Linked DNA regions of Homo sapiens. The protein of the gene in region 1 interacts with the protein of each later gene in a pairwise test. Each region holds a gene or a part of one and is shown in the gene's direction. Other genes may lie near its edges.

Region 1 (3,408 bases):
TTTAAAAAGACAGTATTTGAATCGTTTGGAATTATTTTTCTTAGTTTTCATACTGCCTACCTAGCTAGGTGATAAGCCAGCATTCTACTCTTGATTCTTCTGTAGATCTTTCATTTATTATCAGATCAACAGATGCTCATCAGTTCAAAAACAGTTTAGGTTAAAAAAGAACTGGGCACTGCTGTTATTTTTAAAAATTATCTTGGGAAGGAAAACTATCATGCTTTAGGCCATAATTTCAAGAGAACAGTTTTTGCGTCCTTGGCATTAGAAGCAGGCAGCCTAAGTGAAATCAAACATTGAGAGATTTGGAAAGAGACCCAGGCTAGGAGATAAGTTTAATAAAGATTTTGTTTTTCCAACTCAGTGTCCTTTTGATTCCTTCCTATTATTCAATTCTGTGTGTGTTTGGCCGAAAATAAACTTTGAGTGACTTTATGATGTTAAAGGAATGCCAAATTATGTAAAAGATCATACTCTTCGTTTTAATTGGGGTTTAAAAAAGGAGTAAGGAGAGGGAGAGTAGTTCTCTAGAAATTAGATTTTAAAATCCAACTCTATTCAAATAATTTCAATACATTTGCCAAGTAGGCAACTCATTAGAGAGAAAAGGTAGAAATTTTGATGAGTTATTCTTTCAGGGAGCAAGAAAGAAGTGTCTTCACCTTCCCAATGTGACACCATGACTGTGTGGAACAGCTACTCATTCAGTCTATCAGAACAAAGAGCCTTCTGCTGATGCCTCCCTTTTCTTCCTCTCTTGCATCTGCAGGTTACCTACCTGGGCAAAGTCTCCACCACTGGCATGCAGTTTTTGTCAGGCTGCACAGAAAAGCCAGTCATTGAGCTCTGGAAGAAGCACACGCTAGCCCGAGAGGATGTCTTTCCGGCCAATGCCCTCCTGGAAATCCGGCCATTCCAAGTTTGGCTCCATCATCTCGACCACAAAGGGGAGGCCACAGTGCACATGGATACCTTCCAGGTGGCCCGCATCGCCTACTGCACCGCCGACCACAACGTGAGCCCCAACATCTTCGCCTGGGTCTACAGGGAGATCAATGATGACCTGTCCTACCAGATGGACTGCCACGCCGTGGAGTGCGAGAGCAAGCTCGAGGCCAAGAAACTGGCCCACGCCATGATGGAGGCCTTCAGGAAGACTTTCCACAGTATGAAGAGCGACGGGCGGATCCACAGCAACAGCTCCTCCGAAGAGGTTTCCCAGGAATTGGAATCCGATGATGGCTGAATGAACTTGAGACGCTTCAGCAAAGGCAGCATTGGTCACGGAGTTCAAGGGAATAGATGAGTAAGCAACGTTTCAAATTTGGGATGAAAAGACTGCCAAACTATTGGCTGACCAAGGTTTTTAAATTCAGAAGAGCAATTCTAAATCTAAAGAAATGTATCATTAAAGTAATTACGTTACATTGAAACCTGCTGCTGCTGTGACTGTGAGGAGGGTGGGAGTGTGGATGGGGAGGAAGGTTCTAGGCTCTCTTATTTTTCTCATTTCCCAATGCCTCTCTGTGGGAGAGCTCCATGCCAGTTTTCACCACGCTCAGGCAAATACTCTGCAGCTGTTATTGGATGGGCCATTCCGATCTGCCTTATGAAATTCCACAAGAATGTTAGGGGCACCTATGGGATCTCTAGTGGGGTGGGCAGGGTGCTGATGGGGACGCTGGCCGCAGGGAGGAAGGAACATCTCGGGAGGGCCCTCTGTTCCTCTCCCACGGCAGATGCCCTCCTCTGTATGCAAATCAGCACAGCCTTTATTGAGCTTTACAACTAACAACCTGATAGTTGGCAGTTAATTCACAGTTACAGATAATGCTTTTATTTACATAAATATACCAAGTAGTACCCTCTTATTGTATTCACTTCATCTATTTTCTTAGAATACTTGCAATTACTAATGACCCCTTCCCTTTCCCTCCTGCTGCCCTGTCCACCCTCTTTCCCCTTCTAACATCCTTAGAGGGATGAAATCTCAGCATATGTTGCAGGACACCAAAAGGAAGAAAACAATCAAGCAAATAAAATAAACAGTCAAACAAACCAGGAGTTTAAAACAACAACCCCAACAACAGAAGCCTTGGCAAAGAGGAATAAGTGATCAGCAAGTGAACACACTCTATGTCAACTCTCCTTTTATCCAGCTGAGATTTATGGTAACTTATTTAATTAATGGTCCTGTCTGATGCATCCTTGATGGCAAGCTTCAAATCTGATTTGGTATCACCGAGGAAACCTTGCCCCCATCACTCAGCATTGCACTTAGATACAGAATGAGTTAGATAAACTTGGCTTGTCTAGAGACCCATGTCATCTTAACCTAAAGGGAAATCTTATTGCGTTATCATAAAATTGATGATATCTTAGGGTCAGAATTGCCCTTTTTTTTTATTTTGAATGGGAAGTTCTCACTAAAACAATCCTGAGATTTCTTAATTTCATGGTTCTTTAAATATTATAAACACAGAGTCAACATAGAATGAAATTGTATTTGTTAAAATACACACATTGGAGGACAAGAGCAGATGACTACTTTTCGAAGTAATGCTGCTCCTTCCTAAAAGTCTGTTTTCAATCCTGGTAATATTAGGGGCACTGCGGCACCTAAGAAGCCTTAAATGAGAGCTAATCCAATCTAGAGAGCGATGGTGTCAGCATTTCGGTCTGCATATCTGTGTGTCCGTATCTGCGTTTGTGTGCGTGTACGTGTGCCCCTGTGTGTGGGCCCAGTTTTCAGGCATGTAGAATAAGCATGGAGTCATATTGAGGAGGACTCACTTCTTGAAGATATGCTTGTTGCTTTACAACATATGTAAGCTATTCTTTAGCATAAATGCATTCATTCTTTAATAAAAATATGTTTGCATTAATAAAGCTGAGGAGTTTCATACTTTGTGTCTGTCCTTTTTCAAGTAATAAAAACATGAAGAACAAATTAGATCAAATAGTTCTATCAAAAAATATATTTAAACTGGGTCATAAATAACCTATTCCTGGATTGCGTTTAAAAATCTTGTTTTATTTTCTAAATGCTCAATTTGTTTTTAATTTTTGCATGCCCCTGAGATGGTGAAGTGGCAATAGTTGAAATAGTTCTATAGTATGGTGGGTTTGTTTCAGTGCGGGGTCTTCCAGAACATGTTGCAAATGATTGCTATTTACAAAAATCTCGTGTATGTCTTTGAAGAACCTAGACTGAAATCCTGGAAGGTAAACACTGAGTGATTTTTTTTCTGATGGGACTGGTTAAAGAATGTCTCCTCCAGGCTATGATATCTCAGAATGGCCCCATTAAACAAGCAAGACAGGTGGCCATGGAGCCTATGTTTTTTGAGCAATGCCCTTCATGGAATCAATAACAAATATAAAGGCTTCCAAAGTAAAAATATA
Region 2 (3,500 bases), on another chromosome or scaffold:
AGAGACTCTGTCTCAAAAAAAAAAAAAAAAAAAAAAAGATAGTGATACAGTATAAACATGAAGATTAAAGGGAAAATAACTGTGATCCCACCATTCTGAGATCTCTAAACCTTTTGGGGTTTTTTGGTGCACATTTTATGATTTTATAACTCACTTCTTTCCCCTACACAGTAGAAATCTTTCCACGTTAGTGCAGATGGACAGAGTCATTTTTAGCCAGTTTTGCTTATTTCATCAGGTCTGGATGCTTTCCAGGGATGGCCCCCTCTAACCTTTCGTTATTGAAACTAGCATTGGCCTGCTGTGTTTTCATGTCTCTTGGATCAGTGTCTGGACGTGGGCTCTCAGAGGCAGGTTGCTGGGCTAGAGGACGCAGCTTCCACGGGTTCCATGGCACAGGATGCATTGCCCATTTCCCCCGAGATCTGGAAGGATGTGAAGCTGTTTGTCCTACTTGGACTCCTAGCGGGGGCCTCTCTCCTGCAGGGCTCTGAGGTGCCCTCCCGCCTGGCCCTCGGCCTGCCCAGTGTGCCTTTCAGAGCCGTCTTCCCCTGAGAGCCTCTGTGTGCCCTTCATCCTGTCACCGTAAGTGACCAGATGACTGTCAGTGACTACAGCGTGGAGAAAAGAAAGAACCAAACAGACTTAGCTTTGTGCGTGGAGTTGTAAAGCATGTGTTTTCCTTGCTTACTAGGAAGAACTCAGTTTTTCTGCATCTGCGTCTGAGTTGTTGATTTTTCCTAGCAACTCGATGTTGCTTTGTCTAGTGAACAAAGGCTTTCCTGTTAGGAAGACTCATTACCGTATCTGAAACATTGAAAACAATGTCTTCCACAAAAATTGCTTTTACCTCTAATACAAATTGCTAGGATTCAGATGGCAGAATGGAGGGAAGAGAGAAAGAGACGTTGAGTTGATCTTTTTTTTTTTTCCAAGTTGAGATCTAATTTATATACCATAAAATTGACTGTTTTAAAGCATACGTCTCAGTTGTTTTTAGTATATTCTCAAGGTTGTACAGTCATCACTTCGGACTAATTCTAGAATATTTTTTATTACCCCCAGAAGAAGCCCTGTGCCCATCAACAGTCACTTTCCATTCTCCCAGCCTCCAGCCCCGGCACCCAGCTCATCTCCGTCCTCGTGGATGTGCCTGTTGTGGACCTTGACTCTAAATGGAATCCTGTGGCATCACCCACATTGTAGCTTTTGCCCAGTGCTTTGTTCCTTTTCATGGCTGCGTGATGTGCCGAGGTATGGATGGCCCTCATTCTGTTGATCCATCATCAGTTGATGGGCATCTGGGTGGTTTGCACTTTTTGGCTGTTGTCAGGAATGCTGCTGTGAACGTTGAGGTGCAGGTTTTTGTGTATGTATTAATTGCAGGATCAGGGCAATGGAGTTTTTCACACATGAAATTTGAGGAAAGGAGGGATGCTCCTGATTTCATTTTCATAGAAATTGAAAATCACATTGCAGTAACGACAGACTAATTGTTGTAATTATTTTTGGATGTGGATTTTGTATAAATCCCCACATAGATCTGGCCACCCCCTTCAGGCCTGATGTTTGTTTGATTGAAACTGTGTTAGCTAAGGCAAAAAAACTTGGTAATTCTGGGGAGTCCAGGGTCATAAAAACAAAAAAATCTAAATGAACTTATGAGACGATATCAAATTTGGAGCTTACTTAGTATTGATCTGTATCTATAAGGAAAAATACAAATTTTCTTTGTGTCTGAGTTTAAGTTTTTTTGATGTTTTGTGTAAGACATTTTTCTTTAGCTAGGCTTTGAGCAGAGTTTTATAGCCATCTTTACCACTGATTGTTCTCATCAAACATAATTTTGCTGTACAACACAGGTTGTTAGGATTGGGGTGAACTGCAGAACTTTTTCTCATCTTAAATTTGACTTTATTTTGAAGGAGAGGTCATCATCCAGAGCCATTCTGTTTTCTCATCCCATTAGGAGGAAACATTTTTTGTAATAAATCTGTTTCACTGACTGTCCTTGGGAATGTATATCCCAGTGGGGTCGGTGTTATGAAAATATCTGCTTGAGCTGCCTTATTTGGCATAGTGGCTTGGTGAAAATGAGGAAGTCACCTTTAAATGATTGCTGTGTATGTAAATGTTGGGAAAATAGCCAATCCATTAATGTCTCTTATGTCAGATTTAATCTCAGCCCGTAGTGGCGTCCTCTCTTCAGCACTTCCATGGGGGGTGCGAATGTGCCGAGAATGGGGCCAGCATCTTCCTGCCTGTGGCCCTCTGTCCCAGAGCACCTGGGCAGGTGGTGAATCAGCGAGTTTCTACGAGGGAAAGCATTAGGAATATGGGAAGTGCTAAAGGGGGTGTGCTTGTCTTTCTATTTAGTTGTTTTAGGCCCTGATAAGAAATAGGAGCCGCAGGAGACAGATTGTTCTTAGCTTCTTATTTAAGTATTTAAGTGCCTTAAGTCTTAGAGAACCACAGATTTCAAAACGGTTATTTCTTAAGAATTCCAAATGGCTTGTGTGAATTGACATGCTGTTTTGTATCAAATTTGGAGTCAGTTTATTGTACTGCAAAGATACCATATCATTTTATTCTAGTTTTTTTCACTTAGGTAATTCCGTTTGTCATTACACACGCTCCACTGGAATAAGAAGGATGGTAACTCTCAGCTATTGAAAGCAGGGAACAGTAGACTGTGTCTCATTGGAATAAGAAGGACGGTAGCTCCTGACTGTTGAAAGCATGGAACAGTAGACTGTGTCTCATTAGAATAAGAAGGACGGTAACGCTCAGCTATTGAAAGCAGGGAACAGTAGATTATGTCTCATTAGAATAAGAAGGACGCTAACTCTCAGCTATTGAAAGCAGGGAACAGTAGACTATGTCTCATTAGAATAAGAAGGACAGTAGCTCCTGACTGTTGAAAGCAGTGAACAGTAGACTGTGTCTCATTAGAATAAGAGGGACTGTAGCTCCTGACTGTTGAAAGCATGGAACAGTAGACTGTGTCTCATTGGAATAAGAAGGACTGTAGCTCCTGACTGTTGAAAGCAGGGAACAGTAGACTATGTCTCATTGGAATAAGGACGGTAGTTCCTGACTGTTGAAAGCAGGGAACAGTAGACTGTGTCTTCATTCTTGTGCTTGCCTTTTGTCAGTAGTTTTGGTCTTGGTGTGCTCATAGCTTTGTTTTGTACTTGAAAGTGTGTGGGGCCTCATCATTCAATGACTAAGCTGCCAGCTGAGTTAGAGAAACAAGTTGAGCTAAAATGGACCTAGCATGGGATCTGTTTGTCCATTAAGGGATTTAGTTAGGTTCTTAATCAAGAGTTTAAATTTCTGCTGTGTATGCATTTGATAATTCTTACAAAACGTGACTGATCCTATACATAAAATGTTAGGTACTTCATTTCAGTGGGGGAAGGATTGTGGTTGAATTCTAATTGAATTATTGCCAGGAATTGGTCCCATGGACTTCCCAGGCAGTAGAATGACTTACGTGG
Region 3 (4,152 bases), on another chromosome or scaffold:
CAGACTGATGCTAAGAGAACTAGAAGCCCCTTTTTCCCAGTACGCAGATACAAATGTGCAATCTTTGTCTCTCTGTGCAGCACACAGAAAATTACTGGTAAAAAATATGAATACAGGTTATTTTTTTCTTTTTGAGACGGTATGGCTCTGTCACCCAGGCTGGAGTGCAGTGGAATGATCTCAGCTCACCGCAGCCTTGACCTCCCAGGCTCGAGCAGTCCTTCCACCTCAGTCTCAGCCTCCTGAGTACCTGGGCACATACCACCATGCCCAGCTAATTTTTGTGTCTTTTGTAGAGACAGGGTTTTGCCGTGTTGCCCAGGCTAGTCTCGAACTCTTGGACTTAAGTAGTCCCTCGGACAGTGGCCTCCCAAGTGCTGGGATTACAGGCATGAGCCGTGGGCACATTTACTCTATAGTATGTATTTTACCTGAATCTTTTGGTGAACTCAGTATAAAAAGTTAAACGTTAATGAATGAGGGCCAGGCACAGTGGCTCACGCATGTAATTCGAGCACTTTGGGAGGCCAAGGCGGGCAGATCACAAGGTCAAGAAATCGAATCCATCCTGGCCAACATGGTGAAAGCCCATCTCTACTAAAAGTACAAAACTTAGCTGGGCGTGGTGGCGCACGCCTGAGTCCCAGCTACTTGGGAGGCTGAGGCAGGAGAATCGCTTGAACCTGGGAGGCGGAGACGCAGTGAGCCGAGATTGCACCACTGCACTCCAGCCTAACAACAGAGCAAGACGGCATCTCAAAAAAATTTTTAAAAAATTAATAAATGAGATAAATAGATAACTAGAGCTAATCTTTAATCCAATAGGATAATACAATTGTAACATCTTTAATACCAATGTAAGATATTTCCTAAGCTGGAAAGTTTGGGTGCCTTTATTTATTTAAAAAATCAGGACAGATAATTGAATTATGCCTTCTTCTTAGGTTTCCTCTTACTCGACCCAGTCTTTGTAAAGAATGGGAGGCAGCTGTCAGAAGAAAAAACTTTAAACCCACCAAGTATAGCAGTATTTGTTCAGAGCACTTTACTCCAGACTGCTTTAAGAGAGAGTGCAACAACAAGTTACTGAAAGAGAATGCTGTGCCCACAATATTTCTTTGTACTGAGCCACATGACAAGGTAATATGCATTTTAAAATATTGGGTTGCTTTTTGTTTATCAAACTGATGTGTTCATTGATTAAAATGTGGAAAATTGAGTTAGTGTTAAGAGAATAAATGTGCCTGGAACCTTGTAGTTAACAGTGATACACTTCTGAAAACACAAAATGCAGTTTATTAAAGATAAATATCCTCACACTAAGAAACTTAGTCCAGCTTTGTAACTTAGTTAAAAACCACTCTGTACTGCCAGTTATATATTGATAAGTTTTGGGTTTTCTTTATCAGTGACAGTTTAGTTTCAAAGCATTTTTTTCTCCTCAGTGCTTAATATTTAATTAGATCTGATGATTCATTTTGTCTCTTTCCTGCACCGTCCCTCTACTTCAGGTAGAAAAGTTTATTCAAACTGAAACTGTTTTCTCATTTTGGAATGTTTCTATACCACTGATTCCCAAAAAAAGTCAGTATTTCTTAAATTCCACAGATTCTTTTATTATTTATTTATTTATTTATTTTTTGGAGACAAAGTCTTTGTTGCCCAGGCTGGAGTGCAGTGACATGATCTTGGCTCACTGCAACCTCCGCCTCCCAGTTTCAAGCAATTCTCTTGCCTCAGCCGCCCAAGTAGCTGGGATTATAGGCGTGCACCACCACATCTGGCTAATTTTTGTATTTTTAGCAGAGACAGGGTTTCACCATGTTGGCCAGGCTGGTCTCAAACTCCTGACCTCAGGTGATCCGCCCACCTCTTCCTCACAAAAGTACTAGGATTATAGGCATGAGCCACTGCGCCTGGTCAGTCCACAGATTCTTTTAAACTGTTTTTAGTTACTAAATTCAAACATACTTTGTATTTTTGTTTTAGAAAGAAGATCTTCTGGAGCCACAGGAACAGCTTCCCCCACCTCCTTTACCGCCTCCTGTTTCCCAGGTTGATGCTGCTATTGGATTACTAATGCCGCCTCTTCAGACCCCTGTTAATCTCTCAGTTTTCTGTGACCACAACTATACTGTGGAGGATACAATGCACCAGCGGAAAAGGATTCATCAGCTAGAACAGCAAGTTGAAAAACTCAGAAAGAAGCTCAAGACCGCACAGCAGCGATGCAGAAGGCAAGAACGGCAGCTTGAAAAATTAAAGGAGGTTGTTCACTTCCAGAAAGAGAAAGACGACGTATCAGAAAGAGGTTATGTGATTCTACCAAATGACTACTTTGAAATAGTTGAAGTACCAGCATAAAAAAATGAAATGTGTATTGATTTCTAATGGGGCAATACCACATATCCTCCTCTAGCCTGTAAAGGAGTTTCATTTAAAAAAATAACATTTGATTACTTATATAAAAACAGTTCAGAATATTTTTTTAAAAAAAATTCTATATATACTGTAAAATTATAAATTTTTTTGTTTGTAATTTCAGGTTTTTTACATTTTAACAAAATATTTTAAAAGTTATAAACTAACCTCAGACCTCTAATGTAAGTTGGTTTCAAGATTGGGGATTTTGGGGTTTTTTTTTAGTATTTATAGAAATAATGTAAAAATAAAAAGTAAAGAGAATGAGAACAGTGTGGTAAAAGGGTGATTTCAGTTTAAAACTTAAAATTAGTACTGTTTTATTGAGAGAATTTAGTTATATTTTAAATCAGAAGTATGGGTCAGATCATGGGACATAACTTCTTAGAATATATATATACATATGTACATATTCTCATATGTAAAGTCACAAGGTTCATTTATCTTTCTGAATCAGTTATCAAAGATAAATTGGCAAGTCAGTACTTAAGAAAAAAGATTTGATTATCATCACAGCAGAAAAAAGTCATTGCATATCTGATCAATAACTTCAGATTCTAAGAGTGGATTTTTTTTTTTTACATGGGCTCCTATTTTTTCCCCTACTGTCTTGCATTATAAAATTAGAAGTGTATTTTCAGTGGAAGAAACATTTTTCAATAAATAAAGTAAGGCATTGTCATCAATGAAGTAATTAAAACTGGGACCTGATCTATGATACGCTTTTTTCTTTCATTACACCCTAGCTGAAGGACATCCAGTTCCCCAGCTGTAGTTATGTATCTGCCTTCAAGTCTCTGACAAATGTGCTGTGTTAGTAGAGTTTGATTTGTATCATATGATAATCTTGCACTTGACTGAGTTGGGACAAGGCTTCACATAAAAAATTATTTCTTCACTTTTAACACAAGTTAGAAATTATATCCCATTTAGTTAAGTGCGTGATTTATATTCAGAACAACCTACTATGTAGCGTTTATTTTACTGAATGTGGAGATTTAAACACTGAGGTTTCTGTTCAAACTGTGAGTTCTGTTCTTTGTGAGAAATTTTACATATATTGGAAGTGAAAATATGTTCTGAGTAAACAAATATTGCTATGGGAGTTATCTTTTTAGATTTAGAATAACTGTTCCAATGATAATTATTACTTTTATATTTCAAAGTACACTAAGATCGTTGAAGAGCAATAGAACCTTTAAGACAGTATTAAAGGTGTGAAACAATGGCATTCAAAGTGTCTTTTGTAGAACTGGTTTTCATTGTAGTTCACTGCCATGCTGCCAGTGGATAGCACTGTGATTCATGCATATTTGATGTTTTATGAACCAGTATCTCAAAAATAGAAATAATGATTAGAAGATTACTTGAAGTTGGGCGGGGCGCCATGGCTCACGCCTGTAATCCCAGCACTTTGGGAGGCCGAGGCGGATGGATCACAAGGTCAGGAGTTCAAGACCAGCCTGGCCAATATGGTGAAACCCCGTCTCTACTAAAAATACAAAAACTAGCTGGGCATGGTGGCGAGTGCCTGTAGTCCCAGCTACTTGGGAGGCTGAGGCAGGAGAATTGCCTGAACCCGGGAGGTGGAGGTTGCAGTGAGCTGAGATTGCGCCACTACACTCCAGCCTGGGCAATAAAGCAAGACCCCGTCTCAAAAAAAAAAAAAAAAAAAAAAAAAGATTACTTGAAGTTACATAGTCTGATAACATCATTTAGAACTCATGCTGA
Region 4 (3,500 bases), on another chromosome or scaffold:
ACAATCTGCAAGAAGGGGCACAGGATTGCTCCTCTCACAAAGACACTTGATAATACTGTCCTTGATAGGAAGAAGGAAGTGGCTTCAGATCTGAAAGGATATGCTCATAGGCTTGAGACGGGACAAACTGCATCACTGGTAGTGGTAGGAGGTTTGCCGTAGATCTGTTTTTTCTCCTGTCTCTCTTTTTTGAGGAGAATATTATCTGTATGGCAGAACATACATTGTGGTCTTAAAAAGGAGAGTAAAGCCAAGAAAGGGGGATGATAAAGCCATAGCTTGGAATAAGAAAAGCAAAGGAATTATTGTATTAATTTGTGTATGTAAATACATAGGTTTCCATGTAATTCACTGGTAGGATCACTAGCCCTTGGCACTAACATTTGCTATCTTTGTAGCTCTGCTGTCTTAGTGGTGTATTGGGGGAGCATTGTGGTGTGTTGTCACACTTAATTTGTGTGCTTCCCTTGGCATCATGTGGTAGCAAGTACAGGGTATTCTACTCTTCTAGATGTGTGGGAATCATTGACCAAGTAGAAAATATGGTCCTGCTCCCAAGGAGCTGACATCATCATGGAGACAAGACAGATAAGCACACAATTAGGAATATGAAATACAGTTATTTTATCATTTATCTATGCTCTCTGAAAGCAGTTTCCTGCAGTCAGGGTGACTCAGAGCTATAGGGTCTTGGGAGTAAACTTCAGGTCTTAATACCACCAGGGAAAGGCGACCTCCAGCTCACCCTTGCTGGGCTTGTCTGCTGTCGTGAGCTGTCTGCCATTTTCCTCTTTCTGTGTTGTAATTTAGAAGTATTAGAACTTGGCTTGGGGAAAAGACAAAAACCCCTTTGTCTGGTGAGGGTGTAAATATAAATTTGGCACATGTTGTGGTGTCTATTATGTCTGTTAGTGGGTTTGCGGCAAGAGAGAGTGCTGTGTTCTTAGTCCCGAATGCCAAGCCTGAACTAGGACAAGTTATGGTGGAAATATCTTCCTTGGAAGATGCAGTTCTCAGTGGCAGTGGCTGAAGGAACTTCTCGTCACAGCCAGGCAGTGACTGAAGTGTGGTGTGGACACACCCAGAGTTGCTGCCTCAGGTGGCATTGATTAATCATACTAATATCTCCCTCACCCTTTTGTACTTGTCTTGGCAAAACCCTGTTCTACTAGCTCCCCAATAGTTTGGCCTTTACTAGGTATGATTGAACAAGCTCTTGGGGGTTCACCTTAGTGTCCCTTGCCCCTCTCGCATTTCCAGCCAGCTACGTCGCTCCAGCCATGGTACCCCGGGTCCTCTGGCCAGGCAGTGAGGGGCTGGGTTTTTCTTCCCATTGGACTGAAGCACCTTTCCCTGGAGGCTTGCCTAGGGCAGTTTCTGGTCTCTGAGTCAGTTCCTTCTGCAGGATACTGGCAGCTGGCAGAACTCTGGGTTATTTGAATACATCAGCCAAACATCTTGCCAAGATGGACTCATTGTTGCATAACGACAGGTTGGATCTATGGGTGTTGCAGAACCTGTTTCTGGGTTAAGAGTAACTCTCTCACCTTTATTATATATGTTTATTCATATGATGAATGTATGTGTGTATTTTGTGAAGTAAGGAAAACATGATGATAATATTGTGGTTGGAGTTAGATACCTTATCCTAAATATGTTGTCTTTTTAACAAATAGCATTCCTTTAAAATACAGTTGTGCTTGATGAATAAGGTGTTGTACAAGAAGCTGTGGTTACATTCTAAAATAAACTGCCTTGTTCTGAGGCAGGCACGTTTTAAAATTGTTGTTTGCTTCTTTTTCATCTCTTTTTATTTTCATCTTTTTTTGTGTGAGAAGATTCTGGAAGTTTTTAAGCCTCAAATATTTTCAATAATCTATTTTAACGGGTACCTAGCAGGGAGAGGTTGTTCTATTGGTATACCTAACCAACATTCAAATAAGAATAATTGAATACTGTTTACTCACTAATCTATTCTGTTGAGTTTCTAAGTATGAATAATCACAAAACTAGATAGTGCTGATATATTAACTTCTCTAAATGGTAAATGTGGTAAGTAGCAAAGACATTTTTGTTTAATTCTCTCCTTACACATGCTTTGGTTCAGACGCTGTCAAGACACATTGAAGTTTGAGGACATGTGTATTTCGATTATTTTATTATATTTTTATTTGCTGTGAATATGGGTTTATTTATTTGCTAGATCTTCTTTAGTTAGAAACATTAAGGGCATTTACTTTATTACAACATTTAAAGTGCATTCTAATCTTCATGAGGAATTTTAGGTAAAAGACCGTATCCTGAGATTCATGCAAGTCTTTGGCATTATGTTACTATTTAAAGTAAGTAATATGTAGTGGCTTCTCTGACATATTCTTTCTAAGAGAGTTAAGGAAAATAGTTGTAACTAAAAGCAAACATTGAAACAGTTTAAGGTAGGTTTACGTAGCAACAGAATTATTCGTTATGTTTACAGATAATTAACTCATATTTATACTTTGCTGATTTTCTCTGGCACCTTTACAAGATTTTTTTATTTTTGTAATATAAAAAGTAATTATGTTTGAAAAAGTAGTTAAGGATGTTTGAAGAATCTAGAAAAGCATAAATAAAATGTCCACAATCATGCTGCCATTAATTTTTTGGTATACGTCTTTGGTTTTTTTACCCTTAGATTTAGAAAAGCTGTTGATTTATTTATATATATATATATATTTTTTTTTTTTAGTTTATGAACAGATCTACATATATATATATGCACACACACATAATATACTATTGTCAACACTAGGTTTTATTTTTAAAAATCTTTACCATTTGATAAGTGGTAAATATTACTTAATCTTAATATGCCTCTCTCATTACAGTGATATTGAATGTTTTTTCATATCATCAGTGGCGTTTGTATTGCCTTTTTTCCTACTTCTTTTGTAAATTGTGTCTTTTACTCATTTAATTATTTTCTTACTGGTTTGAAAAAGCTCTTTAAATATTAAGGGTGTTAGTCTTTTGTCTTAAATATGTCACAATATGTATGGAAATAATTAGCAGTATATAACATAACATCAAATTGCTACCAATGTTGATATAAAAATTGTTCATTTCATAGGTTAATTTTTTTTAATCCTTTGGTTTCTAATGATATTGGTTAATTCATTTGTTAACTGCTATTTTCTGTAGCTACTTGAAAGTTCTTATCTGACTGTATCGTAAATCAGCATGCTTTCAGCTGTATATGTCTAGGAAATTGACATTTACTTTAATACTTAATAAAAAAATATGTTGGAGAAAAGCAGTGTATTCTGGAGTCAAATACATGATTTTGGGTGGGTGACGTAATCGGCTACTGTCCTCCTTTTCTAGATAGCCAAGATTTTTGAAGCATTTAACATCCCTGAAAGGCAGGACTAATGCTATGTCTACCATGCACTGCTAATTCTGACACTTTGACCTAATGGATAAATGCCAGTACAGTGGGTCTAGCCAGTTAGCTTGGTCAG
Region 5 (3,500 bases), on another chromosome or scaffold:
AATTTCATTAAGGCATTGTTTACTCCTAGATCATTAATGAAAGAGCTACACCAGGTCAGACTGAGCTCCAATAGCACCCTCCGGTGCCTCCTTCATCCTTCCCAGTTGCCTTTTCTCCTTCCCCTTTGTTTGTGCTTGTTACTCAGAAGCAGTGAATTCCTGCTGACAGCACCCGCCAATTTGAATTCCCAGGAAGATTTCAGGAGAGTCTCTGTTAAACAGTATGCAAACATACTACATATGACATCTTCTTTATCCTCTTTGCTGTTAACGTTGTAATTCTGTCAACATCAATCACATTTACCTTGTGAATTATCCTTTTACCTGTTAGTATTTATTAAAACCACCATTGACTTTGCCATGGTACCAGGGAGCTGAATTAATTTAAAATAATGATAATGAGACTCAGCCTTGTCATCTCATATGAAAATCAGTATCATATTTGGCTTTTCCTTCCAGAATCCTGGGTCCTCTCAACTTCACATGCTTTAATAGTACCTCAGATGGCTGAATGTTCTCTGATAGTAACCCTCAGTAATGTTGGCAAAGTTGGTGTTTAAGAAACTTGGTCAGCAGGCTTGGACTCTATCAGCAGTGTTTGGACATCTCTTCTGGGCTGTGGTAGCCACATTTTTCCAGGGGTGGAGAGACATCAGTGTGTGTCAGCTAAGCCTGGCTAGTTGCTGTTCAATCCCATCCCCAAACTCTTTGGATGGGAAACCACACCCCCAGTAATTCTATCCCAGAAGGTCCCACCCAGAGAGACCTGTTGCTACAAGTCCTGTAGCACTAGTAAGAGATTTTGGTCCTTTCACTTCCCCTTTTCCTTTTGCCCTTTGGCCTTTGCATTTTGCCTCCCTTCTTTCAATTGTCCCCTTCCCCCATGTTCTTCACTTGCCACCAGGTTGGTGATCTGACAAAGACACAGTTGTTGGCAGATTTCAGGCATTTTCCTTCCAGGACCACTTATATTTACCAAGGAGGGCACCAGACCTAATGCTAAGGAAGAATTCCAATCCACAGATGGGACTTCAGGCTTCTGTGAGGGCGATGTTCGTGCCCATGGCCCTTCCTGGATCCCTGTCACTAATGCATCATTGGGTTACAGCTATGAGCACATTTCCCCTGAGGACAGAGTCTCTTGGCACCTTTCTAGCACCCGACAGGAAGGCATGATGAGCCCATGACCAACTTATTCCCCTTCTGCATCAGCTTCATATCTCATTCCTCCATGAAGAAGCCAACCTTTTTCTTTCCTACCTACTGGATCTCTATGTGAGGGCATTTCCTAGAGACCAGAAAAGAGACAATCTTTTATTTTCATGGTCAGTTGCACCATGCTACACAGGCTGTACCTCCCAGGCTTAGGAGAACATTACTGGGGTGTTCTTGGGGCTTTGTATTGGCATAGACCTCTTGTCAAGGGCTAAAGGATATCAGGGCAGGTTAGCTTGGCCCATGAAACCAATCCAGTGATACCACTGGTCGAGGAGTCCTACTGAGAAGGAACTGGCTTCTAACATAGGCCAAGGAGGTCTGGAATCCTGGAACTGCATATGTTCGCTGAGCTCAGATGCTTAGTTTTTGGGTAGCCCTTTTGTAAAGAAATATACTCCACGTTGCATAGCGCTTTAGGCTGGGTATGTTTAAACCTTACCAGTAGAACTGACCATCTGTTTAGTCTTTATGACAGCTTGGCTACCACTTTCTTGTCCTCTGGCAACCCCAGGAAGTAGGCAGAGCAGCCATGTTTAGGCTTATTTTAGAGGTGACATTCTGAGAGGCAAAATGACTTTCTCAAGAGCAGTCAAAGGAAGGACTTTTGAGCCCAAAGTTACTGGAAATTTAGGGCGTTTACCCTCGTTGGATTATATATTCAAGATGATGAAAGGGACCACTAGCGTGCTTGTGTGCAGGGGGTGGTGGGAGCTTCCTCTAAGGGAGTACATGGATGAACCTAGGGGTTTGTGGAATTCACGTGAGGAAAACTCCATGCTTATAGATTTTACATCATACCATAACAGCTTTGCCCTGGGACTATTTTAAAGTCTTAAAATATGAATGGAAATGAGGATATAGCTTATCAAATACACTAACTATATTAAGGCAAAAGAAATGGCCATTTTTGTAGGCCAAAAATGGTAAAATGTTAACAGTTTCTTATGGTTCAACCTAGTATTTCCTCCCAATCTTTCAGTGTATTTTGGTTGATTCAGTTATTGCCAAGGACTCATTAAGCCTCCACCACATGTGAAATTTGCTTTCTAATTCCCAAGACTTGGGATGTCACAAAAACAAGGGATAGGTCACTGTGCTTAGATAATTGCAACTTACTCATATGGGGAGAGGACAGGCCTGGTTGTAAGAGAACCATTGCAAAGTAATGATATTAGCACATGCAAAATAAAATGTCTGAGCATTGTGAAGTGCTAGAATAAACATGGAGTTTGGAGTCAAATATCCTCATTTTAAACCCTGGTTCCACTCCTTTATCAGCTATGTAATCTTATGCAGAATCATGCCAGTTCTTTGGGTAAGATATTACATATGAATACAGAAATCAATTAGCATATAACCTGACACATTATAGTCACTCAGTGTTATTTTTTTTCTTGTTCTATATAATCTTTCTCTAAAGAAATGCTAAGCAATGTCTCTTCTAAAAGCCCTTCTTGTATGTCTGCAGCTCTTTATAAACAAAGAAAATGTTCCGAGTCTCCTTTTATTTCTGAACAACAAACCCTCTGAGAGAAGTAGGGCAGATGTTGGTGAGGTCGTTATAGAGGGTTGTACAGGTTGTGCCCTGCAGTAACAGTGAATAGCGCCTTTTAGAGTTGGGCATTTCAAAAATATATGGGTTGGCCCTGATTCATTCATGTCAACATCCACATTTTCTAGGAACTAAGGCACAGAAATGAAGTGACTTTGTAAAGGTCATGCACTCATATAGTGCAGAGCCAGAATTCTCTGGAGATGTTATCATTTCTAGTCCCCTATTCCCCACACCTTGCTGCCTGCGTTAATGCTTCCTGCATTTTGACTTCTCTCATTTGCATCAAGAAGTAATTGGTGCTATTCACTGATTCTTCAAATCAACTGGAAATTCCCTGAGGGCAGGGTCTGTGAGCTTGGAACACAGTACGTGCCAAATTAATGTTAGTTGATTCACTGACACTAATGTAGGGGAAAAATTGGTGCAATAACATCCTGAGTGGGTACATGACTAGGGTGAAGAATTTTCACAAGGCCAAGAGCTTTCCTTTAAGGATTAAATCCAGCTAGCTCTGATCAGAATCAGAGAAATGCTACAGGAAAAAACAAGTTTGTTCTGGATCAATGTTTTCCTGAAGTTCAATCATGATCCTTGTCATGTCTAAAAATGCCTGTATATTTAATATAGGTATGTTTTCCCATTACTCATTAAAATAAGTATATGACTACTGAAAAATTTTTAAATGTTCTAAGAAATTAAGCCATGAGGAAACACTGCACTTGACCAC
Region 6 (2,444 bases), on another chromosome or scaffold:
ATTTTCTAAAGGTGAGACACTGGTGGAACTGGGGTAGCTGCTTGGGACGTACCACCTATAGTTGTGGCTATTTCACAGAGAAGCAGCAGCTAGACAGACTCCCATCTGTAAATAAACAAGAGATAGGAAGAGGGGGAAATAGATTTGGAGGAGGCAGCCCTACATTTCAAACATACATTCCCTTTTTTAGATTTTTTTTTTTTTTTTTTTGGTTTTCAGTTTTGATGGTGGGATTGGAAAATAGAGCTTGGCTTGAGGACATTTTCCTGGGGTGGCACCATTATTTCTTGAAATAGAATCTTACTTATGGTGACACTGGCAAGCACTTGTGAGAACCTGAAGACGGATTGAGGTCATTTGATGCTCAGAAGTTGGGTGCTGGGTCCCTGCCTTCTCAGTCCGAGTTCTCCTTTCATTTTTGGGTGGGGAGGCGGGTTCCAAGAGCCCTTCATTGGTGGAGTTCACAAGGCAAGGTGTAAAAAAAAAAGTAGGGCAGGAAGACAGTGGTGTGCTGGCAGAGGTCTAACAATGGGCTCTCCAAGGAAGAGGAAAAGGTTGGTTGTGGAGTGTTTGTCAGTTTCCGTGGTGTAAATACTCCCACCACGGCTGACTTCAAGCTAGCAACCGGAGGTCACTGAACTAAGAGTTGGGAAGAGATAGGGCACAATATATGCTTACGAGTTGGTACACACCGTCAGCAGCAGCCAGGGTCAGGAGAAAGGCGAGATGTGAAGAGAGGCCGGGAGGTATCAGATGACGTTTCCAGCACTAGACCAGAAGAGGTGCACACAGCCTAGACCCCCTGAGGGGTACACCCTGATCTCTAGAGCCCACAAAGAGGTTTTTATTCAACATAAAACGTGTTCATCTCTCATAGGCCTGAGTCATGCTGGGTTCTGGGACATTAAGCCCAGGAGTGGGCCGGGTGCGGTGGCTCACGCCTGTAATCCCAGCACTTTGGGAGGCCGAGGCGGGTGGATCACCTGAGGTCAGGAGTTCGAGACCAGCCTGGCCAACATGGTGAAACCCTGTCTCTACTAATAATACAAAAATTAGCCGGGCATGGTGGCACGCGCCTGTAATCCCAGCTACTCGGGAGGCTGAGGCAGGAGAATTGCTGGAACCCGGGAGGCGGAGGTTGAAGAGAGCAGAGATTGTGCCACTGTGCTCTAGCCTGGGTCACAAGAGCGAAACTCCGTCTCAATAATAACAACAACAAAAATAACCCAGGAGTGGCTCAAGAGTCCAGTGTGGGATGAAAATATAAACAGAGGAAGACAACATATGTCACTGGGGAGGCTGGGGGAGCTAGACAAAATTCACACGGGAGGGGCAGGGATGAGACAATATTGTGCCCTGGGTCTGTGCAAACGTTGGGACCAGAATCCACTATAAGTTTCATTCTTCGGAGACACGGAAGCTCTGCACTGGAGGCCGGGACTCAGGCGTGGAAGAGAATCTTCTCCTTATTCACCGGGGAGGCTGTGTCTTGTGCAAACAAGTCATAGAAACTTGATGGGAGTTGGGGAGGGACTGAAGGATGCATGCAAGGTTCTGGGAAGGAGTGAGAAGTAGTGAAGGCCAAGGGGCCCCCATCACAGGCCGATGGGGTAAGACTTCGAGAGAGCCTGATCCTGGGGTCTTCTGAGACTCCACCAGGAGCCGGAGAGGGCAGGGAGCCAAATCCAGCTAGGAGGTTACAGATTGCTTTTCCTGGGCTGGGCTCCTGAGTGTTGGTTCTTCCAGCTGTGCACAGGGGATTTCAAACGTTCTACGTCCTAAAGCCAGGAAGAGTGACAAGGCAGGTGGGGACAGAAGGAAGAAGCCAGGAGCCTCCCTGAGAAGGTGTCACCTTATCTGTCCTCCTCTTCCCCACACACTGGCCTCTGGGTCCCCCTTCTCTGTCCACCCACAGAGTGAAACCAATTAAAATGTTGGATCTCATTTAAAGTCTGGGTGATTCTTTAGTTTCCGTGTTTTCTCCAGGAGGGGCAGGTAGAAACAGGAACTACTCTGTTCCTTCTGTCTGTGGGGCCTGGGTCCCTCCATGTGTTTCCTGTCTCATCACCCTCCTTTCCTTGACATCTCTCTAAAGCCAATTTATGAAGGATCAGGGGCTGGGTGCAGTGGCTCACGCATGTAATCCAGTGCTCTGAGAAGCTGAGGAGGGAAGATTGATTAAGGCCAGGAGTTTGAGACCAGCCCAGGCAACATAGCGAGATCTCTGTCTCTACAAAAAATTAAAAAAATCAACCGGGTGTGGTGATGTGTGCCTGTGGTCCCAGCTACTCGGGAGGCTGAGATGAGAGGATCGGTTGAGCCCAGGAGTTTGAGGCTGCAGGGAGCTATGATTGCACCACTGCACTCCAGCCTGGGTGATGCAACAAGAGACCCTGTCTCCAAAAACAAAAAATAAAAAAAAAAAAAAAAGAAGGAGGAGGAGG
Region 7 (3,500 bases), on another chromosome or scaffold:
CTAGGGATCATGCAGGGCATGGGGAGACTCCAGCCAAGAGCTGGAAAATTTGGGTCCTTGTTCCGGTCCTGGCATAAAATCCTCTAGAGAGTGCTAAAAATCTACAAATTGGGGACCTGGGGAATCAGAATCTTAGGGTTAGGGCTTAAGACAATTTTTGTTTTGTTTTGTTTTGTTTTGTTTTAAAGCATCATGGGTGAAAACCATTATTTTAGAGATTACATTTATATGGCTAGCTCATGAGTCTGTTTATTTCCTTCTGAGGTTCAAGCCAACACTTTCACTAATAATAGAGAGTAGAGATCTTTTTTTTTTTTTTTTTAGACGGGGTCTCGCTCTATCACCCAGGCTGGAGTGATACTTACTGCAACCTCTACTTCCCAGGCTCAAGCCATCCTCCTGCCTCAGCTTCTCAAGTAGTTGGGACTACAGGCGCACACTACCATGCCTGGCTAATTTTTGTATTTGTAGATACGGGGCTTTGCCATGTTGCCGAGGTTGGTCTTGAACTCCTGAGCTCAAGCAATCCACCCACCTCAGCCTCCCAAAGTGTTGAGATTACAGGCATCAGCCACCATGCCTGGCCTGAGATCTTTTTAAAATTATTTTTTATTTCTAAAGCAAAGAAACTTGACAGCAGAGTTGTATTGACTGAGTTGCACATTGAGCCTAGCCCTAGCCCTTTTAAGGGGCACTATTTGGAACGGCCTGGGCTCCCCAGATCTAAACTTCTCGCTCTTCACCATCCAGTTTTCAAGCCGGTGTGAAGCCCCTGATGCTAACCAGCAGTTACAGCAGGCCATGGAGGAGCGGGCACAGCTGGAAGCACACCTGGGGCAGGTGAGGCTTTGCAGGGGAGGGATGTAGAAGGAAGATGACCCCAGGTGGCCAGGAGTAGGTGACAACCAGTGACAGTCCTTCCTCATTTCTGTGGCCATTCTTGCAGGTAATGGAGTCGGTTAGACAACTACAAATGGAGAGAGATAAATATGCGGAGAATCTCAAAGGAGAGAGCGCCATGTGGCGGCAGAGGATGCAGCAGATGTCAGAGCAGGTGAGACCTGACCCTTCAGCTCCCCCTCAACCTTAGATAGGTCACTTGATCTTTCTGGGCATCTGCGAAATGGGAGGAGCACAGCCAGAGGTGGTCATGGGTCTGGGCTTTGTGGCGGTGGGGGCAGAGGGAGATGGTAGCCTGTCCAGCCACCAGCCCCTCTCCAGGGCCCTTTCTTGCTGTGCTTTGGGCAGGTGCACACATTGAGAGAGGAGAAGGAATGTAGCATGAGTCGGGTACAGGAGCTGGAGACGAGCTTGGCTGAACTGAGGAACCAGATGGGTAAGCTGGGGCTGGGGTGACCTGGGAGCAGGAATGGTGTCAGAGGGTTGTGGGGGTGGTTTAGAATGCCCCAGGGAGTTGGGTGGATGGAATGGCTTTGAGGCAGAGGGAAAGAGGTCTGTGCCAGGAGATGGCAAGTCTCGTCATCTCCATGAGCCTCAGTGCCCCATCAGCAAAGACGAAGGAGTGCCCGTTGTCAGCCACCCACAGTTGTCGCTATCGGAAAGTGGTTTGGAAGATTGGCTAACATCCGGGTGCGAGGAATCATCAGCAGGGAGGCCAAGTTTGGGGAGCTTGAGAGGAGGTATGGACCAAGAGGAGGGTTTTTTTGAGAATCCAGAGGCTTTTATTGTCTGCGTCCTTTCTCAGCTGAACCCCCGCCCCCAGAGCCCCCAGCAGGGCCCTCCGAGGTGGAGCAGCAGCTACAAGCGGAGGCTGAGCACCTGCGGAAGGAGCTGGAGGGTCTGGCAGGACAGCTTCAAGCCCAGGTGCAAGACAATGAGGGCTTGAGTCGCCTGAACCGGGAGCAGGAGGAGAGGCTGCTGGAGCTGGAGCGGGCGGCCGAGCTCTGGGGGGAGCAGGCGGAGGCGCGCAGGCAAATCCTGGAGACCATGCAGAACGACCGCACTACCATCAGCCGCGCACTCTCCCAGAACCGGGAGCTCAAGGAGCAGCTGGCTGAGCTGCAGAGCGGATTTGTAAAGCTGGTGCGCTGCCCCACCTGGAGAGCCCGCCCTCCTCCCTAGCCCTCCAGACCTTTGTTTTCCCACCTGTAAAGTGGGGCAGTGTAGCCCTCACTTGAAATGGTACTTCTGGAGGCATCTGTGAGCCAGAGCCCTGCTCCGATGGCTGTGGGGGAGAGGGGATGATTTTTCTAACCTGCCTCCACCCTTCCCGGTGCCATGGGAGGCAGACACCAAGGCAGCAAGTTCTGGGGTCTCCAGCTGCAGTGGGTGGCCGCTGATTGCTTCTCTCTGTCCAGACTAATGAGAACATGGAGATCACCAGCGCACTGCAGTCGGAGCAGCACGTCAAGAGGGAGCTGGGAAAGAAGCTGGGCGAGCTGCAGGAGAAGCTGAGCGAGCTGAAGGAAACGGTAACCCCGCCCCATCCAAGAAGGGCTGGGAGGCGGGCACCAGCCTCTGGGGAGGGGTGGTGTGAGGCCAGAGGCAGCTCCAGCCTGGGGCACAGGTGACCCCAGCACCCTCCAGGGCAGTCCTGTGACTGTTTCTTGCTCCCTGCCCTCTGACTTTTAGAGGTGGATAGCTTTGGGCTCCTCTCAGGTCTGGACATCATCGTCCCAGCTAGAGGCATGGATTTCTCCCAATCACAGGGGAAGAGACAGCGGCATAAGAGGCTCCTTAGATTCAAACTGGATTCTGGCCTTTGCTCCACTGGTCATCATTCAACTACTTTGCATCTCTAAGCCCCAGTTTCTTTAACTTAAAAAGGAAGTTAGCATCTTCCTTGCAGAGGTGCTGAGGATTCAATGAGATAATACGTGGAAAGCATTAGGCATGTAGCACACTTAGCAGATGGTGGTTGGCTCCCTCTGCGTTTCCACCAGTCTGTGGCCTACGGTTTAAATGGTGGGAAGAAGGATGTGAAATTTGAGGCTGGGGAAGGAGGCACGAGGCTCTAGACAAGGGAGGCAGTCACTTAGGCCTGGAGCAAGGGGCCAGAGGTCTGGGCAGGTGACAGAGCCCTCGCTACCCTATTTATGGGCCCTGAATCTGGAAGCAGGCCACCACCTGCCCTCACGCCCAGGGTCTTCCTACAGGTGGAGCTGAAGAGCCAAGAGGCTCAAAGTCTGCAGCAGCAGCGAGACCAGTACCTGGGACACCTGCAGCAGTATGTGGCCGCCTATCAGCAGCTGACCTCTGAGAAGGAGGTGCTGCATAATCAGCTACTGCTGCAGACCCAGCTCGTGGACCAGCTGCAGCAGCAGGAAGCTCAGGGCAAAGCGGTGGCCGAGATGGCCCGCCAAGAGTTGCAGGAAACCCAGGTGAGGGAGTTGGTGAGGGCAGGGCCCCGAGGGGGACAACCTGGCAACCTCCATGCCTTCTCACTCTCTTTTCTGGCCCCTTAGGAGCGCCTGGAAGCTGCCACCCAGCAGAATCAGCAGCTACGGGCCCAGTTGAGCCTCATGGCTCACCCTGGGGAA

The links.
Region 2: the proteins of PID1 (region 1) and BANP interact in binary tests that used the Homo sapiens proteins (3 or more experiments, as listed by UniProt).
Region 3: the proteins of PID1 (region 1) and THAP1 interact in binary tests that used the Homo sapiens proteins (3 or more experiments, as listed by UniProt).
Region 4: the proteins of PID1 (region 1) and NOTCH2NLA interact in binary tests that used the Homo sapiens proteins (3 or more experiments, as listed by UniProt).
Region 5: the proteins of PID1 (region 1) and CBY2 interact in binary tests that used the Homo sapiens proteins (3 or more experiments, as listed by UniProt).
Region 6: the proteins of PID1 (region 1) and CRX interact in binary tests that used the Homo sapiens proteins (3 or more experiments, as listed by UniProt).
Region 7: the proteins of PID1 (region 1) and GOLGA2 interact in binary tests that used the Homo sapiens proteins (3 or more experiments, as listed by UniProt).

What each region holds. Positions count from the first base shown.
Region 1 is NC_000002.12:229,023,473-229,026,880, reverse strand, and holds the end of PID1 (PTB-containing, cubilin and LRP1-interacting protein), read left to right. Parts: intron 1-772; coding exon 773-1,249; 3' UTR 1,250-2,908; downstream 2,909-3,408. UniProt on the Homo sapiens protein: Increases proliferation of preadipocytes without affecting adipocytic differentiation.
Region 2 is NC_000016.10:88,006,934-88,010,433, forward strand, and holds part of BANP (protein BANP), read left to right. Parts: intron 1-3,500. UniProt on the Homo sapiens protein: Controls V(D)J recombination during T-cell development by repressing T-cell receptor (TCR) beta enhancer function. Binds to scaffold/matrix attachment region beta (S/MARbeta), an ATC-rich DNA sequence located upstream of the TCR beta enhancer.
Region 3 is NC_000008.11:42,836,174-42,840,325, reverse strand, and holds the end of THAP1 (THAP domain-containing protein 1), read left to right. Parts: intron 1-944; coding exon 945-1,140; intron 1,141-1,989; coding exon 1,990-2,364; 3' UTR 2,365-3,652; downstream 3,653-4,152. UniProt on the Homo sapiens protein: DNA-binding transcription regulator that regulates endothelial cell proliferation and G1/S cell-cycle progression.
Region 4 is NC_000001.11:146,219,022-146,222,521, reverse strand, and holds part of NOTCH2NLA (notch homolog 2 N-terminal-like protein A), read left to right. Parts: intron 1-3,500.
Region 5 is NC_000013.11:45,705,320-45,708,819, forward strand, and holds part of CBY2 (protein chibby homolog 2), read left to right. Parts: intron 1-3,500.
Region 6 is NC_000019.10:47,841,381-47,843,824, forward strand, and holds the end of CRX (cone-rod homeobox protein), read left to right. Parts: 3' UTR 1-1,944; downstream 1,945-2,444. UniProt on the Homo sapiens protein: Transcription factor that binds and transactivates the sequence 5'-TAATC[CA]-3' which is found upstream of several photoreceptor-specific genes, including the opsin genes.
Region 7 is NC_000009.12:128,259,008-128,262,507, reverse strand, and holds part of GOLGA2 (golgin subfamily A member 2), read left to right. Parts: intron 1-750; coding exon 751-840; intron 841-946; coding exon 947-1,054; intron 1,055-1,248; coding exon 1,249-1,336; intron 1,337-1,705; coding exon 1,706-2,043; intron 2,044-2,318; coding exon 2,319-2,432; intron 2,433-3,116; coding exon 3,117-3,341; intron 3,342-3,425; coding exon 3,426-3,500. UniProt on the Homo sapiens protein: Peripheral membrane component of the cis-Golgi stack that acts as a membrane skeleton that maintains the structure of the Golgi apparatus, and as a vesicle thether that facilitates vesicle fusion to the Golgi membrane.